3 separate regions of the Homo sapiens genome follow, and all the other regions are linked to region 2. The links come from fine-mapping of genetic effects on gene expression. A gene starts in region 2. Each other region holds a variant in brackets. All regions are shown on one strand. Distances are between the middles of the regions. Region 1 overlaps GRB10 (growth factor receptor bound protein 10). Region 2 holds the start of GRB10 (growth factor receptor bound protein 10). Region 3 has its middle 44 kb from the start of GRB10.

Region 1 (4,135 bases), 69 kb before region 2:
CTTAAATCCTGTCTCTAATGGGTACTGTTGCTACCTCATCTTTACAGATGAGGAAAAAGGAGGACAGCAGCTTGCCCAGCGAATCACATCTCGTAAGCGTGGGTGTGAGACCCATTGGGGCTGAATCAGAGAACATGTCCTTAACAACCGAGCTATGGGTAACTACAAAATCTGTCACTCAGAGAATTCCTAAAACATGCAGAAACTCCACAAGGCTGAAAAAGGCTGAAAAAAAAAATCCTAAAACATTAGTGAACTTGGTAAAAGCTGCAGTATCAGCACTCCTATTCTGCCAGTTGCAAGGTGTACAAAACTAGTCCCTCAAATGGAAATAACCTTCATAATAAATGAGCCAGAGCCATTTTTCTCACCCAAAGTGACACTGCCTGTTTTGATATTACACTTTAGGTCTATGCAAGAGGAAAGGAAGCAAGAGGTTTTTAAGCAGAGATTTCAGTCAAACTGATCCTTAAACAAAAACAAGAGCTGCTTCCACCAAAAGCCTGAGATGGGGGAAAAAGAAAAGTCAGCAAGCCAGGTGTCTCGTATCAAGGAACAAGGGGGATGCTCTTTACTTACAATTGTATTCACACAGGCTGCTGAGGCCAACATGAAAATATCTGGGCAAGCCCTGGTCAGAGTACAAAAAAACTTTTCTCCCAAATGGTAAGAATGCCTGGCCTGGCAGGGAAAATACCACCACATAAAAAATGATCACATTTTCACTAAAATCATACGGCCTAAAAAACACACAGATCAGTGGCTTGTACTCCATATTCAGGCACTTATTTCCACATAACTACCTCCAAGTGCAGCCATTCTTGAATTAAAAGCAAAAGTAGTGCATGAGCTGCCTCACTTTAACCACCCACTCTGCAGTGTTCAGCACAGAAACATCAATTCTGGTTATTCACAAGGGGAGGAGTCTATCAATCATTTACATTTTAAACAGCTCTATTGAGATATAAATTACATAACATAAATTTCATCTGTTGGAAGTGTACAAACCAATGAATGTTAGTATAATTAAGGATCTGTACAACCATCACCACAATCTAATTTTAGAACATTTCCATCACCCTACAAAGAAACCTCCTGCCCAGAGCCTGTCAATCTTGACAAATGGTTTTCCCAAAATAAAATGCCTTTGCCAAGTCAGTTTTGTTCCTGTTTTTGCATCTGGTATTCCCACATCAATGAGGCATTTTGGCCGAAAGGGGGACAGCACTAGCTCTAGAATTTCTACAGAAGAGTAGCTACATGACCTTGGGGAAGACATTAAACCACCCTGTGTGAGTATAACCTCCAAGGACTATTGAAGATTTAGTGTGATCACACATGGAAAGCACGGCTCAGTAAATCTCAGCTGCTATTTTTACTACTGCCACTACTGCCCCTGCCTCCTCCTCCTCTGCGGTCACTACCTCCCCTCCCGACATTTCCACCAGCACTCCACCCCTTCCCACCACCTCCTTCCATCTCCATCACTTCTCCTGCCACATCAGCTCCTCCTCTACCTTCTCCACCTCCTCCACCGCCACCTCCATCTCCTCTACCACCCCCACCATCATTTCATTACCACCTCCATCATCACCTCCAGCACTTCAACCAACTCCTCTACCATC[T/C]CCACCATCTCCTCTACTATCTCCACCATCACCTCCACCTCCTCTGCTACCTCTATCACCTCCACCTCCTCCACCATCTCCATCCTCACCTCCACCTCCTCTACCATCTCCACCATCACCTCCACCTCCTCCACCATCACCTCCACCTCCCCCATCACCTCCACCTCCTCCACCACCACCTCCACCTCCTCCATTGTCACCTCCACCTCCTCCATCCTCACCTCCACCTCCTCTACTATCACATCACCTCCACCTCCTCCACCATCTCTATCCCTCACCTCCACCTCCTCCATCTCCTCTACCACCTCCACCATCACTTCCACCATCTCCACCATCACCTCCACCTCGTCCACTTCCTCTACCACCTCCACCCTCACCTCTAGCTCCTCCTCCTCCTCCACTACCTACCCCTTCATCACCACTTCCACCCATTCCATCACCTCTGCTCCTTCCCACCACCCTTCACCTCTTACATCTCCAACACCTCCATTGCTACCAACACATCCACCTCCACACTCTTCATTATCTCTATATCCTCCTCCCCCTCCACCACCACCTCTACCATCACCTCTACCTCTTCCTCCCCTACCTTCACCCCTCCTCACCACTTCCTCCATCCCCAACTTCAACAAAAAGGCAACTATTCAGACACCAAAATATCCACATGTATTAACATAATATTAATTTGTTAGAATAGTCAACATGTAGCAGTACCTTAATCGATCATGAGTTCTAGAGTAACTTAACAGTCTGAGAAATCAGAAGATCAGAATCTCTAAACTACCCACTTAATAATTTTGACAACACAATCTTTAAAGTACCACAAGAGGATCAGTGACAATGCAAGTTATAGTCAAATTATATTTATATACTTTAAATATAACTTGAGGCCAGGAGCAGTGGCTCATGCCTGTAATCCCAGCACTTTGGGAGGTCAAGGTATGCAGATCACGAGGTCAGGAGACTGAGACCATTCTGGCTAACACGGTGAAACCCCGTCTCTACTAAAAATACAAAAAATTAGACGGGTGTGGTGGCGGGCGCCTGTAGTCCCAGCTACTCAGGAGGCTAAGGCAGGGGAATGGCGTGAACCCAGGAGGCGGAGCTTGCAGTGAGCCGAGATTGCACCACTGCACTCCAGCCTGGGCTACATAGCGAGACTCTGTCTCAAAAAAAAAAACAAAAAACGGAGTGCAATCCTGAGCCCTCCTGAGCTCCCAGGTGGGGTGCACAAAGCCATTGCAATTGCACTGAACCCAACTTCTTCAGCTTCAAGCTTCTCGTTTTCTCTCTGGGTCCCACAACCCCAGCAACCTCTACACTAAAACCAGAGAACCAAACCATGTGCGGCTGTGAGAGTGATCAACAGAGCCAGGGTTGCCCTCCTAGCAGATCAGGGCCGTAGGAGGCACATGACACACCCACATTCTTCCCCCATGAGCAGAAGGAAGAGAGAAATCTCTTCCTTGAACTTTCTCAACAATAATCTCAGAATTTGGAAATAACTCTCATTGTCCTGGCTGACCAGGAAAAGGCCCCAGGGTTTGATATGATGAATCCTTGGTGGTGGCTTTTCCTCATTTCTAAGTCCCTCCCACAGGTAGAGGGCAGGGGGCCAAGGGTAAATGGCAGCCAATGCCAAGAAGCTGGAGGCGGAATGAGGTAAGCTAGGTCTGGCCTGGAGCTCCAGCCTGGGGCTCCCAGGTGTGGCAGCCCTTTGAAGGGCAGGCGCGATCTGGAGCAGGGAAGGGCATGGAGCAGCTTCCAGGTGCAAGCAGAAGGGCTGGGCTGGCAGGGCAAGAGGACGGCGGTTCATAGTGATGCTCCCCAGAGGCTTTGGATAAAGCTCGTTTTATTCATAAAAATGAATAAACAGCACAGATCCCAGGGCTCAGGAAACTCAATCCCTCTGCCAAAGAGTGACTTTTCCCAGTAAGACCAAACTCGGGCAGCCATTACAGCAGGAACAATTGGTGGATCCCAACCTTGCTGTGGGCCATAAGAAACAGTTCACCTCGCCCTTCAGGTATGAAAAATCTTATTGTGGCATGAGCCAAATGTTTACAAACTGCCAGTGTGACAAACTATGATTCTGAGCAAATAACTTCACTCTCTGGGCCTATTTCCTCACCAATAAAATCAGGTTTTTGGACCATATGACGTCTAAACTTCTTCTGAGTTCCAAAGCTGGGTCTGCACACTCCACAAAAATGTTCCAAAGCAAATCTACTCCTAGAACCACGGTTAAAATAATATCATGGGTGACTTCTGAGCTTCTGGCCAATATGGAATATAAAGGATTAGATGTACCCTCTCCCCCTAAATAACTAAAACTGAAACAGTTTTCATACATTTGACAACAGGCAGCATGGGACAGTGATTCCTGAGACATGATCCACATGACGCAGCCCTACTAGTGCCCACTCACTGGCTGGAGAGAGCTTCCAAGCTGCAGCGCAGGGAGGGGGAATCTCCCTTCCAGGCAGAGCCTAGGATCGTCCTAAGGAGAC
Region 2 (4,135 bases):
AGGTAAAACCATTCTAGTCCAAGCGAGTTTCCTAAGACATTCTTACTAAGTCACAAGTACATACTCCAAGAAGCTGCCTGGCTTTTGTGGGAACACAAGTGTCAGTGAATTTAGGCTGTGGCCTAAATATGCAAATTTTGGAGCCTAACCTCCAAAATTCGAAAGATGCAGTGTTCTCTCGAAGTTTGGAAGCCTAGTTCTGGGGTGGTAATTACATGATGGCTGGAGGAGCAACTGGTGATGGAAATCCTTAGGAGACACTAAAAATAACTCACATTTTAATCGACCAATCTGGAACTTCTCTCACCCCTTCATGCCAATCGTGCAATTACCATAACTCCATTCACCATGTTCCTCAGCAGTTAGTATGCACCATTCTCAGTCCTACAAGATAGTAACTATTATCCCTGATTCACAGGTCCAGGTACAACGGCAGGTAGCACAAGATGGGGAGGGGACTGAACCACACTGCACTCACACCCCACCCTACAATTAAAAACCGTCCTTCAGCGCGTGGCTGCCGAGCACCTCAAACTGAAACAAGTGTTCTTTACCACCTTTCTCTGGAGTGACAGAGAGAAAGAAAATCCCAGTAAGCCCTTCTGGCCCTGCCCACCACCTCCCCTGTTCCCACCCAGGCCAAAGGGGGAATGCGTGGGCCCTGCTCCCACCCCCGATGCTGACATCAAAGGAGCAGAGACACGCAGGAGACTCCAGGCAGCACCCGAGGCCCTGGCCGCCAGCACGTCATAATCCCTGCAGTCGCTGCCTTTCAGACTTAAAAAGAACAATGAGGAAAGACACCCACGCTTCCCCTCACTGGGCTAGGAAGGAGAGCTTTGCGGGTTTAGACTGCAGTCTCCCCCGCCCATAGCCACCTGTGTGCCGGCTCCGCAGACGAGGTCCCCCCAGCACCCTGGCAGGGACTGTACCATCAACAGACAAATGGCAGCCGACCAAGGAGGCGACTGGCGTGTGGAACAGGTGATCCGATTGTTTTTCTAAAGAGCAAGGGCTAGGACGTCCTACGTGTTCATATGCACAATTTTTTGAACTCCATCAAGAACACGAACCCCATGCCCACATCTTCACTGCTCAATTCACATTGTCTGATATGCACCTTCCAGGGAGAAAGAGGTTTTCATGGAGAAAGAGGCAACGTTGACTATACGTGTTTACTCAAAGCTTTTTTATACCGGACTATATGCCATCCAGGTTTAAGAGAATTCCAGGCAGGCTCTAGCATTATGTTTTTCACAGAAAAAGCCGGTGCAGTAGCCCGGATGCCCAGATCCACTCATTTCCCAAACCGGTTCCCACACCCGCTGCCCACCACCTGGCGAGGAAGGAGCGGGCGAGGTTCGCTCGAATCGTCGTCACGGGTTTCCGTGGGTACAGTTATTACTCGTTACATAATATTAAACAATTAAGATTAAAAATGGTTACATAATACTGTCCTATGGCTGGCGGCAACGAAGCTCGGGATCTCGGACTGCAGCGAGCCCGCGGCAGGCGGGCAGGGGGCCGCGCGGCAAGACCTCCCCGCCTCCCTCCCGGGCCCTGTCCGCCGCGGCCGGGGCCTCTGCAGCCTGCGCAGGCCGATCCGCCCGCCGCCCCGGCTCGCGCCCACCGCCCACCGCCCACCGCCCAGCGCCCGCGGCGGAGCCCACCTGAGTACCTGGAGAGCGGGCGGCAGCACTGGCCGCACGGGGTCGCTGCGTGTGCGCCGCCGGCCCGGGTAGGGCTTCGGGGCCCGGCCCCCGCAGTGCCCGGCGCGTGGACAGCGCTCCGCATGGACAGCGCTCGGAGCCGGGCCGGGCTGGTCCTCCACGGCTCCGCCCCGGCCAGGGGCCTGCGGCGCAGAAAACCGACCCGGGGCCTCGGGGCCACCGCGCGCCAGGCGAACGCGCTAGCACGAAAAGCGGGCCAACGCCGCCTCTGGGGACGCCATCCGGGCGAGGGTGGGATGCCGCGCCACCGCCCGAGCGTGCCCGGGGGCTCCCAGCGCCATCACCACGCAGGTGCCCGGGGGCCCCTCCGCGGAGCCGGCTGCCGCCCGGCTGCAATACTCAGCCTCCGAGGGACTGGGCGCTCCTGAGGAGCGGGAGGACGACGGAGCAGCGCCCGGTCCTGGAGCACAACAGGAATCCCAGGACCAAACCCATGTGACGCGGCCACGCCCCAACGCCCGGCGGGGGCCCTCTGCTGCCCAATCCCCGGATCCCTGGTTCTCATGGCAACCCTGAAGAACCCCTTGTTCCCTCCACTGCCTCCTCTCCTCCCCCACAGCCCCCCCGCCTGATGGGCAAGGACGCGCACACTGGCCACTCTGACGATGCCGAAAGCCCTCCATGTCTACCCGCTACGCCGCATTCGCAGACAGGCGGGGGACATCGCGGCCGCGGCAAGCTAGAGATGCCGCCTGCTCGAGCAACCTTCCACCTGCAGGGCCGGCCAGTTCTACTCTTCCAGGATCACTCTCGTCTCACCCTTCTCCCCAAAATGTCAGAGCAAGAACCAGGAAGGGAGAGGCTCTTTCTGGAAGCCACAGGCATAACGTTACTGAACAACGAGGACAAAGTAGGGTCCCATTTAAACTGAGAGTCAGCGAGGGAAAGAACAGATCCTATACATACCAAGCATCTGCTATGTGCTAGTCACTTCACACACACACACACCCCACACACACCTCACACACACACCACACACATCCCACCCACCCACTCACATACATACACACCACACACATACATACACACCACACACACACATACACCACACACACACATCACACATACTCCCCCACCCCCGCACACACATACACCACAGACATACACACGAGCCTGCAATGATGGAAGCAAAACAGAACGTTTGGAGATATTCACTGCCGTTTACAAGGCCACAGTAAGCAGTAAGCAGATTTTCTACTCCCCTCTAGCAGAGAACATGGTAGGAAAAGCTAGACATTGTAGACAGCAGTAAGAACCTAACAGTCAACAGTGGACAATGGATTCTGAAACTGAGATCCTATACTGCATTCACACACGTTAAGGGGCAGGGCGCTGGGAAAACCCCATCTCAGTCTGGGGTTCAAAGAGTGGAAAAGCTACCCTAGTCCAACTGCTCGGAGGCCAGGTCAGGCCCCTGAAGGTCACTGGAGGAGGAGGCTGGAAAAAGTGCAGATATGCACTCCAAAAGGAGAGGTTCCACGGTGGTCATGACCACAAAATTCCAATATGTTTAAGTCGATCAAACAAAAGCAGAGTTAAGGCTGGTTCTGAAAGCAGCCAAGAGCAGTTTTCAACACAACACAAAGGGTAACACAAGGCTTTCTTTTCTCACAGTCCGGGCTGACCACATATGGCCTGGCTACTGCAAGAAACATTGAAGGTGTTAGCGCTTTTGACTCTAACTGCGCACCCCTCAGAGAAGATGTCACATAGTGAACATCGCAAGGCACAGAATGGGAAATGGAAGCACAGAATCAAACCCTGAGATTCGGGGAGAAACCAAAGTGTGGAGAAATTATGTAACTTATCCAAAGTCCAGAGCAGGTTACTGACTGGGAGAACTTGGCTTTCCTTCCAGACTCCAGATATGAGACTTTTCTGCGGTCTGACACAGTGGCTTCTTCCACCTCTGCAGTCAACCCCACAAAGGTGGCTCGAGTGTTCCTCTGCCTCCCTGCCCAGCAGCTCCCAGCCTGGATGGTGAACTCCTTTGCCTGAACATCCCACGCACCCTGCCATCTCCTGGGCTAGAACAACAGGTTGTGCAGGACAGAGGGCTTCCCTGCCACACTCCCCTCTATTACAAAATGCCAGAGGTCCCAGTTCGAAGCAGCTGTTCCTGGATGTGGGAAGAGCAAGAGAGAAATGATCTAATGATGGACAAGGAATCTTGAAAAGCCAGACCTTCACTGAATGGCTGACAGGACACACATTTTGCTTTACTAGAACAAGAACAGAATCTTTGAAAAGGCATAAAAGCCAGTGGTCAAGAAGTAACTGACAGCAAAGGCAAAAGAGATGAAGGCTAAGCTGGAAAGTGGAGATGAAGCCTGATGATATACTCAGTGGAAGCCCAGAAAGTCTCAGGAATGAGAACTACCATTCACCTCTGGAAATGGGAAACG
Region 3 (4,135 bases), 44 kb after region 2:
CACCTTGTCCTTGGGATACCACATGGAATATAAGTTCAGTCCTGGAGCATTAAGAATTCGAGGTCTTAAGGAAGTTTTGGCTATTCATGTGCATTTATTTTGGCATTAAATTTGTGTTTTAACTATTGGAGGGAAAATATATTGAGACTTATTTGGTTGCTTTTCACTTATTTAAAAGCATTTAAGATTTACTTCACTTTACAATTCTATCAGTTTATTGCCTTTACAATTCTATCAGTTTATTGCCTTTCTGGAGTTTTTATTCTCCCAGTCATATTCCAAAATGACCCAGGATCTGAAAAAATTCAAACTGAGTGACTGTCCTCAACCTCATGTCTTGGGATGAGTCCTATTTACTCAGTGGGTGGGCTTTGCTGAGCTGTCTGGGTTTGAAGGATGCCTCACCACTTGCGGCCCCTGAAGATCAAAGCAGTCCATGCTCACTGTAGAGTAACCCTCAGCACAGAAGGGTACGATGCAAACACCCAGCCTTCTCACCCACGCCTCCTTCCCTGCCTGCCCCGTAAGGAACACCTATGCCCCAGGGCTCATCCAGAAAACAGTTTCTTTTGCATCCTTATAGATGAGTTCTTTCAATCTCTCCAGGCCACAGTTTCTTTGTCTATACCAGGGCTCAACTAATATTTTCTGCAAGGGGCTAGATAGTAAATAGTAAATATTTCAGGCTTTGCAAGCCATATGGTCACACTCTCTGGTGTCAAAGCAGTCGTAGACAATATGTAAATAAATGGGCAAGGCTATGTTTATAAAACTTCAGTTATGAACACTGAAGTTTGAATTCGGTCTAATTTTCACGTGTCACACAATAGTCTTCATAGATGTATTTTTCAACCATTTAGTCACATAACAACTGTTCTTAGCTCGTGGGCCCTATGAAATCAGGTGGTGGACATGTTTGGGCTGAGACCCCTGCTCTACGGGGGCATAAAACGCACAATATTGTGAGAATTCAGGAGCACGAGCTTTAACTAACAGCACAAGGCATATCACGTGAGAGTCATTCAGTGGCTGGTATTCACTGATCTCTATCAGAGCAGAAAACAGGTGCTTTTCGTGAGTGAAAGCAGGAGGCTGAAGGCCCACTGCACTTTTCTCGTGGGTGATTTGGGGTCTCTAACCAACACCTAAGGCAGCAAGCCATTTCTCCTCAATCCCTGAGTTACTCTGGTAAGGGAATCAAGTTTGCACTGCTTTTCATACTTTCCCCCACTAAATTTTATTATTTCCCTTTTGTTGGTTCTTTCTCTCTCAATTCTCTTTTCTAAGCTGACTCCATTTCTTTTCTGGAAATTTTCAGTATTGTGGGGCCTGGGTATTAGGGATTAGGAACACTTGCAATCTGAAAGCCTGTGTCTTAGGAAGGTGTATGCAAAGGGAATAAGTGGAGGGGAACCCCCTGTGAGCTGTGCAGACCAGAACAGGTTTTTCTCCTAAGGTAAGGGTGTTCAAGAGGAAAAACAATGTGCAGATATTAACTCTTCCTTGAAAGTTTGTTATGTAGAGTTAAAGATTGCAGATTACAGGCTTTAGAACCAAACTGCCTAGGCGCTAATCACACACTCAGAACCACGTGACTATAGATAGTCGCTAAACCTCTCAGATTTGGTAGCCTCATCCATAAAATTAGCGTGGTAATCATAATAGCAGATACCTCAATGTTATTGTTAAGATTTTTAAAAGTTAATATATGCATAGCCCTTAAATCAGTGCCTAGTATGGAATGGGTAATCACTGTTAATTTCTCAAACTTTTTATTTTGGAATAATTTTAGATTTAGAGAAAAGCTGTAAAGATAATACAGGGAGTTTCCCTATACTCTCCATCCAGTTTCCTGTAATTGTTAACATCTTACATATCCGCAGCATGTTTGTCACAACTATGAAATTAACACTGGCACAATACTACTAACTAAACTCCAGACTTTTTTTGTATTTCACCAGTTTTTTTCACTCATGCCTCTTTTCTGTTCCAGGATTCCATCCGGGATCCCACAGTGCATTTAGGCTGTCTCCTTAATCTCCTCCCATCTATGCCCATTTCTGGGACTTTGTTTCTTTTTCAAGACCATCACCCTTTGGAGGAGTGCTGATCAGGCATTCTGGATGATGTGCATCGCTTTGAGTTCGGCTGATGTTTTCTGTGATCGATTGGGGTTATGTTTTGGGGGTGAGTGCCATGGGGTGAAGTGCCCTTCTCATTGCCTCGCCTCGGGGGCACATGACTTCACCATGACTCAAGTCTGGTGATGTTAACCTTGAGCCCTTGGTTGTGGTGGCATCCGCTAGATTACTGCATTGTGAAGTTGCTATTTTTCTCTTTCCA[T/C]ACCCTTCTAGAGGAAGTGAGTCACCAGGTCCAGTCCACACTCACTAGGAGAGCAATGAAGCCCCACCTCCTGGAGAAGTGGCTGCATCAATGCTCCCCTGTATTACTTGTGGTGCTTCTGTGAGAAAGATTTGTCTCTTTTTCCCTATGTATTTGCTTATTCACATGTTTACTTATATTGGCATAGACTCATGGATTGTTCCAGCTTTGGCCATTGGGTACTGTTTCAGGATGACTCCTGTGTGCTTTTGATGTGTTCCTATTTTTTAAAGCATGTCCTCTGATGCTACAGGATGCTTCAGGCTGATCTGGAATTTCCCTTAATTCAGTTATTAATTCAGCCATAGGATTGTATGAGGATGCATGACACAGGGGACTTTTATTGTTTGGTCTGTCCAGGATCCCCCATCCCTGGAAGAACTCATCTCCCCATCCCTTGTGGTCCTAGGTTGTCCATCAGCACACCACCCCCAGTGGGCCACAGGAGGAAGGACTGATGCAAAGGGTATGCATTTCCACAGGGCCAGGAGGGCCTCCCTTGAGGTGGCTATGTGTATGTTGGGAAGGAGAGTTTCACTTTCCCTGTGCTGCTAAACTGGGAAGCTGGTGGTGGCCATCTTCCCCACTTCATGAGAGAACTTGCCTTCAGAAGAAGCCAATACAACAGGAGGCAGAGCTGACCTTGAGAGAGAGCCCTGCCTGTATGACAGCACCTCCCATCCAGCTCTTCTTGACACTCTTCAATGTTCCACCTACATGGACCAAGACACTCCAATTGCTTTTTAAGCTCATTGTGCATATGACTACATGAAGTACCTAGCATGAGGACCACATCTTTCTGCCAGTCCGGCCCTTCATAGAATTTACACCCCACCTACTTCGATGGACACCAAAATATAATCCTCACACTTGACCTAGACACACCCATTATGCTGATTGAAACAAATCAAACTTTAAAAGCACTTCAGAAGACTACTTTTTAGAATCTAGTAATCACCCTTGATTTATGCTTTATGCAAAATTACACAGATTTTTAATGAATTTTTGCACAAATCTAAGTATAAATACAGATGCTCCTGAACTTACAATGGAGCTACTTCCCAATAAATCCATCATAAGTTGAAAATATAGTGAGTTGAAAATGCATTTAATACACCTAACCTACTGAGCATTGTAGCTGAGACTAAAACATTCTCAGAACACTGACATTAGCCTACACCTGGGCAAAATCATCTAATCCAAAGCCTATTACAAAAAGTGGAGAATATCTTATGTGATTTATTGAGTACTGTACTGAAAGCGAAACTAAGAATGGCTGTATAAGTACTCAAAGTACAGTTTCTACTACATGTGTATCACTTTTGCACCATTGTAAAGTTGAAAAACCTTAAGTTGAACCATCGTAAGTTGGGGATTATCTGTATATCACTTTAATAAGGCGAAAACAATACTACAACCTAATGATCATAAAGATATAGTGGAATAGGTACATTTATATAAGTAATAGAGTAAAAGGTTATACAAATCAACATCCATAAAATTGTGGGATTTTTGATCTAATAATCTCACTTGTGGATGTAACCTAAGGAATTTAAAAAAGTTTTTTTAAAGACAGATTCATAAGTTTTTTGCAGTCTGATTATTTAATAGAGAAATATGGGAAACAATTTATGTGTTCCACAATGGGGTCTTTTTTTTTTTAAGTGAAACCTTAACTCTTTGAAATGTTATATGATTTTTAAAAATTATAAACATGAAGAAACTCAAGCAAGATAATGATATTTATTATGGA

Evidence for each region. PIP is the estimated chance that this variant, and not a neighbour inherited with it, causes the effect.
Region 1: its variant is fine-mapped to the expression of GRB10 in whole blood (TOPMed, PIP above 0.99).
Region 3: its variant is fine-mapped to the expression of GRB10 in blood mononuclear cells (TOPMed, PIP above 0.99). The same link has a PIP of 0.9 or more in monocytes, monocytes after LPS, monocytes after Pam3CSK4 and monocytes after R848.

Annotation. Positions count from the first base shown.
Region 1 is chr7:50,711,869-50,716,003 of GRCh38, forward strand. The region is part of intron 4 of GRB10 (growth factor receptor bound protein 10); the gene reads right to left. Among named protein-coding and RNA genes, the nearest start is that of GRB10, 69 kb to the right of the region's middle. RefSeq lists an enhancer at 3,342-3,857. The variant T/C (reference allele first, on the strand shown) is at 1,626.
Region 2 is chr7:50,780,746-50,784,880 of GRCh38, forward strand. GRB10 (growth factor receptor bound protein 10) reads right to left here and starts at 2,151. Exons shown (of 19, transcript NM_001350814.2): 1 at 1,679-2,151.
Region 3 is chr7:50,824,649-50,828,783 of GRCh38, forward strand. No RefSeq gene overlaps it. Among named protein-coding and RNA genes, the nearest start is that of GRB10, 44 kb to the left of the region's middle. RefSeq lists an enhancer at 1,751-2,950. The variant T/C (reference allele first, on the strand shown) is at 2,344.